Linked DNA regions of Homo sapiens. The protein of the gene in region 1 interacts with the protein of each later gene in a pairwise test. Each region holds a gene or a part of one and is shown on either strand. Other genes may lie near its edges.

Evidence for each region. Proteins that work in one complex are often made in the same cells at the same time.
Region 2: the proteins of HEXD (region 1) and ADPRS interact in a two-hybrid assay, tested with the Homo sapiens proteins (one large-scale study listed by BioGRID and IntAct).

What each region holds. Positions count from the first base shown.
Region 1 is NC_000017.11:82,428,202-82,431,855, forward strand, and holds part of HEXD (hexosaminidase D), read left to right. Parts: intron 1-51; exon of another isoform or gene 52-107; coding exon of another isoform or gene 108-193; intron 194-356; coding exon 357-444; intron 445-1,232; exon of another isoform or gene 1,233-2,211; intron 2,212-3,654. UniProt on the Homo sapiens protein: Has hexosaminidase activity. Responsible for the cleavage of the monosaccharides N-acetylglucosamine (GlcNAc) and N-acetylgalactosamine (GalNAc) from cellular substrates. Has a preference for galactosaminide over glucosaminide substrates.
Region 2 is NC_000001.11:36,091,741-36,094,435, reverse strand, and holds the end of ADPRS (ADP-ribosylhydrolase ARH3), read right to left. Parts: coding exon 2,611-2,695; intron 2,527-2,610; coding exon 2,342-2,526; intron 2,015-2,341; coding exon 1,914-2,014; intron 1,340-1,913; coding exon 1,050-1,339; 3' UTR 504-1,049; downstream 1-503. UniProt on the Homo sapiens protein: ADP-ribosylhydrolase that preferentially hydrolyzes the scissile alpha-O-linkage attached to the anomeric C1'' position of ADP-ribose and acts on different substrates, such as proteins ADP-ribosylated on serine and threonine, free poly(ADP-ribose) and O-acetyl-ADP-D-ribose.

The DNA of each region.
Region 1 (3,654 bases):
CTCGAACTCCTGACCTCAAGTGGTCTGCTGGCCTTGGACTCCCAAAGTGCTGAGATTACAGGCGTGAGCCACTGTGCCTGGCCTTGAGTAGTTTCTTGTAAAATGTGATGACTTCATTCTCTTGTCGTGGGTTGAAAAGCGAACCATTACTTGAGGACGTGCTAGAACATCATCTTCCCAAATTTTGGAGCAGGTACCTTTCCAGAAATCAGGATACCTGTCAAGCTTTGTGGAGTTTAGGGCCTTACTGTTTCCCGGAGAGCCCCCCAGGGCCTGATGAGGAAGGGCTGGGGGGGTGGGTGTGGAAGTCACGTGCTGCTCACATGACCCTCTCTCTATGAATTTTGTCTCTCCAGCCCCTCTGAAATCAAAGAGATCTTGCATCTGGCTGGACTCAATGAGCTGGAGGTGATTCCCTTGGTGCAGACATTTGGACACATGGAGGTGAGTGGCAGAAATGGAAGTTACCTGGTGCCAGGTGTGGGGTCCAGGGGCTGCAGGCTGGGCCAGGCTTGTGCCCAGGGGTGGGTGCAGCGGGCCCATGGTTGGGGTGCAGGCAGCGCAGCTCAGCACAACATGGAAAGGCCTTTGGTCTAGGAAGTCCCTGCCTGACTCGGCCAGAGCTGCAGGTTGGGGCTGCCTGTCTGCCTGAGGAATGGAAGGAAAGAGCCAGAAAAGGGGTCCTGGAGGCAGTTTCCTTTTTCACTTGTATTCATCAGAATATTATTATGTGAGGTAAAACACAGTATTAGGGAAAGAAAAGGTGCTTTTCAGGCCAGGTGCGGTGGCTCACACCAGTAGTAATCCCAGCACTTTGGGAGGCCGAGGCTGGTGGATCACCTGAGGTCAGGAGTTCGAGACCAGCCTGACCAACATGGCGAAACCCCGTCTCTACTAAAAATACAAAAATTAGCCAGGCATGGTGGCGGGCACCTGTAGTCCCAGCTGCTCGGGAGGCTGGGGCAGGAGAATCACTTGAACGCAGGAGGCAGAGGTTGCCATGAGCCAAGATCGCACCACTGCACTCCAGCCTGGGTGACAGAGCAAGACTCCGTCTCAAAAAATATATATATACACATATTCTTTTTCCTGTCTGCATCAAACAGGAAGTGATGCGGCATTAACCACCACACCGATTTAATGGCTCTTAGGTTCCATTTATTTCTCTAACAGATACACCATTCTGGCTTCTATTTCCACACACCGCGGGTAAGAAGGTTGTTTTCACTTACACATGTCGGTGTTCTGGGCGTGCCACCGGAGTTCCTTCCCACAGCTCGGTCCTCCAGCCTTTCTAGTTGATTCTCTCCATCGTACTCTGCTCTGGGACCCGGCCTGCGCTCTTAGCCTCCTGCCACGTATCCACAGAATGTCTCTGCCAAGGCCGCCAGGGTCCTCCAGGTCACTAAGTCCAGGGACGGTTTTAGTCCTTTCCTGCTGGGCCCCTCGGTAGCTTCTGGCATCCCCAGCCGCTCTCCTGAGCCCCACACTTTCTGGCTTCCCTCTGCCTCTGACTGCACCTCCTCGATATCCATTTGCATTTGTCTCTCTGTAGCTGGCGGTCCCCAGGGCTCCTCTCGGTCCCTGTCCCCACCTCCCACTCTCTCTCTAGATGGTGCCATTTCTGCTCCTGCTTTCTCTTTGTCCTCCTCTTCGTCTTCCTCTTCCTCTTCTGTCTGCACCTCAGCAACTCCAGACCTCCTGGGTTACAGACCCTCATCCCCAGCTGCCTGCTGGTCGCTTCCATTGAGGGCCCTCCTCCAGCCTCTGGTGTGCAAACCAGAAGCAGACCAGCCACAGTCAGCACCACCACCCGCCACGCCCTGACCCATGTTGGTCCTGCTGCTGCTCCTCCTCCTCTTCCTCTGTCATGCAGGCACCACCCCTGTCTAAACCACTATGGACTCACCATGAAACTTTCCTAATGGGTCTCCCGGGGCCACTCTGCCCCTCCGTGCCCCTCTCCCCACCACAGCAAGTCACAGCACAGCCCTGACCACTCACACTCGCCATCTCCTCAAAGGACACTGCTGTCAGGGCAGAAGTGATCGCCACAAACCAGGTGGCTTAAGACAACAGAAATGTTCTCTCAGCCCTGGAGACCAGACATCCAAAATCAGCGTGTCGAAGGGTTGGTTTCTTACTGAGGAAGACCCTCCATGTGTACATTTACTATTAGTATACCCTTTTTGTGTGTTTGTTTTTGAGACAGGGTCTCACTCTGTTTCCCAGGCTGGAGTGTAGTGGTGCAGTCTTGGCTCACTACAACCTCTGCTTCCGAGTTCAAGTGATTCTCCTGCCTCAGCCTCCTGAGCACCTGAGATTACAGGTGTACCCCACCATGCCCGGCTAACTTTTTATCTTTTTATTAGAGATGAGGTTTCAAGATGTTGGCCAAGCTAGTCTCAAACTCCTGGCCTCAGGCGATCCGCCTGCGTCGGCCTCTCAAAGTACTGGGATTACAGGCGTGAGCCACGGTGCCCAGCCCAGTATACCCTCTTGGTATACTAGAAATAACTGCTCAGGTGTTTTGCCCATTTTTTTTTTCAACTTGAGTTTTTAAAGTTCTTTATATGTTCTAGATGCAAGTCCTCTGATGGTATGTAATTTGCAGGTATTCTCCCCCAGTGTAGAGCTACATGCTTCTGGTGTCATTTCTAAAAACTCTTTGTGATCACCAGATCACAAAGATTTTTCTTGTATTTTCTTCTAAAGTTTAACTTCTGTGCATTTTTCATTTAGATCTATGATCCATTTTTAGTTTGGTATTTTTATTCTTTCTCCAGAACCCTTGAACATCCAAGTTATTTGTCTTGAGTCACAGACTCACTCTGTCACCCAGGCTGGAGCGCGTGGTACAATCACAGCTCACTGCAGCCCTGAGCTTCTGGGCTCAAGCTTCTGGGCTCAAGCACCTCAGCCTCCTGAGTAGCAGGGACCACAGGTGCGTGCCACCATACCCGGCCAGTTTTTTTTATTATTTGCAGATACCAGGTCCCACTATGTTGCCCAGACTGGTCTCGAACCCCTGGCCTCAAACAGTTCTCCCACCTCAGCCTCTCGGAGCGCTGGGATTATAGGCATGAGCCATTGCACCTGGCCCCATTTTGAGTTAATTTTTTTTGTTCATTTTCCTTTTTGTGAAGAGTGGGGTCTCACTATGTTGCTGGGCTGGTCTCAAACTTCTGGGCTCAGGTGATCTTCCCGCCTCTGCCTCCCTAAGTGCTAATTTTTTTTTTTTTTTTGAGACAGAGTTTCACTCTGTCACCCAGGCTGGAGTGCAGCGGCGTGATCTCAGCTCACTACAAACTCCACATTCCAAGTAGCTTCAGCCTCCCGAGTAGCTGGGATTACAGCGCCCGCCACCACACCCAGCTAATTTTTGTCTTCTTAGTAGAGACGGGGTTTTGCCATGTTGGCCAAACTGATCTCGTCGAACTCCTGACCTGAAGTGATCTGCCCGCTTCGGCCTCCCAAAGTGCTGGGACTACAGGCATGAGCCACCATGCCCGGCCTCCTTTCATTCTTACAATATATTCATAGTAGTTTTCTTGAAATATTTGATAAATTCTGCATGTGGGCCCTGAGAGTCAGAGTCTGTGAACTGGATCCTACTTTCCAGTTCATTTGCACATCTCAAAATTTTTGGTTGAG
Region 2 (2,695 bases), on another chromosome or scaffold:
CATGCTGTGTAAAACTTCCTTGCAGGGAAAGGCTTTTGATTGGTCCCAAGATACAGGAGGAGGCACACGGCACTCAGTCCACCCGGGGCCCCGTGATGGTGCCCTCCCCACCCAAAGGTTGGTAGTCTGATGATAGCAGGGCCCTCTGGATCCTTCTACAGGGTTCCTGTTCCTGGCCCAGCTGGGCCTAGCTCCTGTTTGGGGAAGTCAGGCTCTGAGAACAGAAAAATCTGGCTTGTTCCTACCCGCTGCCTCTGGCAAAGCACTCGGCCCAGCAGCCTGGGCCACTTTGAGTGATCTCTAACAGGAAAAGCCACCAGACCATGCCTGCTGTGCCCTTCCTGGCTGAACACGCAGCCAGCTGGAGTGCCTGGCAACACAGCAGCTCATGGCCTTGGGGCCCCAGCTTCTATGACAGTGCAGCACAGACAAAGGCACTAGTCTTCAGAGATCAGGCTGGCAGGGGAGAATCCATTCAGGGCAGGAGAAACAAGAAACAGTGGTGAGATTTACCAAAAACTGTTTATTGCGACTTCCACTGGAAGCTGTTAATAAGCCACATGGCAGCCAAGAGCCAGGTGTGACCTAGATCAGCTGGATGCAAGTGCCTGTCCCTTCATCCACACAACCTGCTGCTCGGGGACCCTGCTAGGATGCGCTTGCTGGCAAACTGGCTAAAACCCAACAGGGAGAAATGATGCTACTGCTCATCATTTCCACCTCCCCACATCCCATGTCCAAGACAATACAGGAAAATGCCACAAGTACCCCTCCAAAATAAACCCGCCTGCGTCTGTCTGTCCTACTGAGGAGCCAGGAGTGTCCTACGGCTCTGCAGCAAACCAGAGACCCAGCACCAGCGAGGCACCAGTCCCTTGCTCGCTGTTCCAGTGACCTCCCCTGCAGAGACCCCAGCCTCACCGGTGTACTCAGTCAGCTCCACAATGCAGGAAAAGTGGGAAGCCACACTCAAGGAAGCGCAGGGTTTCTGATTGGAGCTGTAGTTGGTCCCAGGGGACCTGGCAGAGCCCCAACAGCTGTAGCCCTCATCAACTCTTCTGGAAGACACGGTGCAGGCTTTGGGCCAGGATGTCTGTCTCCTCGTAGCCTTCACAGCTTTGCTGCCAGCTCTCTGGCACCTGATCCATCCCATAGTAGGCACCAGCAATGGCCCCAGCCATGGTGGCAATGGTGTCTGTGTCCCCACCAAGTGAGATGGAATAAATGAGAGTCCTTTGGAGGCTATTGAAGGCAGAAGGGATCTCAGGGTCTGGCTCCATGCAGCGTAGGAAGCAGTAGATGGCGGTGGGTACCGACTCAAAGGCAGCAATGCCATTCCCTGTGGGGAAGCCAGGTTAGAGGGGCTGCATGCTTCCCCAGGCCTCCTACCATTTGACACAAGTCAGCACTCTCGGCTTCAAGCAGGCTGTGACTAAGATCTCAGGCTCTACAGTTAGACCACCTGGGCTCAAATCCTGGCTCCACCACACACTGGCTGCGTGACTGGGAGAGTTACCTAGGGGACCGCTAAGCTTCCTGCTCCCAGATTCAACTCCTTAAGCAGACAGGGAGTAACGTTAGCAACTCTCTGACAGGGCTGTTGTGAGGATGAAGCGAGATCGTGTCTGTGAAGCATTCTGCACAACGCCCAGTATAGATGCTAGACAAATAAAATCCATTATCAACATTTTTACGACTAGTGGCCAGCTGCCATTTCTGGGGACACTGGTCCACAAGGCTGAGGGTGCTGTAGCTTCAGAGCAAGAAGCGCTGAGCTCAACCCTGCCATTGACTCCGTGTCACAGCAGCCCAGGGTACAATGCGACGGCAGGCATGACTCCATGCTCCCCTGAGCCCAAGACCGACCCTGAAGGACGACAGAGGGAGAGACAATCCCAGGCAGACCCACTCACCTAGCTCAGACACCACTTCCTCCCTGGTCACCGATGCCTGGTCTAGAAGCTCTCCAATCTTCTTCAGGCGGCTGGAGTATGGACGCTCCTCCATGCCCAACCTGTGGTTTAGGGGAGATTTCAGGGAGGTCAGAGCTAGCAGGGTGGTGGCGCGGGCAGGGGAGAGGGCTGCATGTGAGAACGAGCAGGGATGTGGTCAGGCTGGCAGCCAGGCACAGGTGCCGACAAGAGGTGGGAGAGGGCTGGGGTGAGCAGGTCGTTTCGTTCTCTGGGACCCTGAGAGCCTTGAAACATAGACAAGATAAAGGGGCTTCTGCCCATGCCTCCCTAGGGTCTGCAATTGAGGAAGGTTTACAGTTTGCGGCAATGCCAGAGGCCCCCTGGATCACCCACATACCCACACCACACACCTCCAGCCCCATACTCACTCCCTGGCATCCAAGACGGACTGGGCATCACCCTCCAGATCCTCCATGTGGCCCAGGAGTTGCTTGAGAAAGTGCTCGCTGGAAGACTCGCCCTGCAAGGCCAGGTGCACAGCCAGGGCCTGCAGGATGGCGCCATTGTAACCCAGGGAGGAGGCGTGTGTCAGCTGGGCCGAGAGCCGGGCAAACTAGGGAGGAGGAGACCTGCTGTCACAGAAGCCCTGCTGCAGAAGAGGAAGGGGACAGCCCAGAAGCCAGCCCGCCCTGAATACCTTCTGCACATCCTGGACACTGCTATAGGCCAGGGAGATGCCAGCCACCCGCATGGCACCTCCATTGCCATAGGAGCCTTTCCCG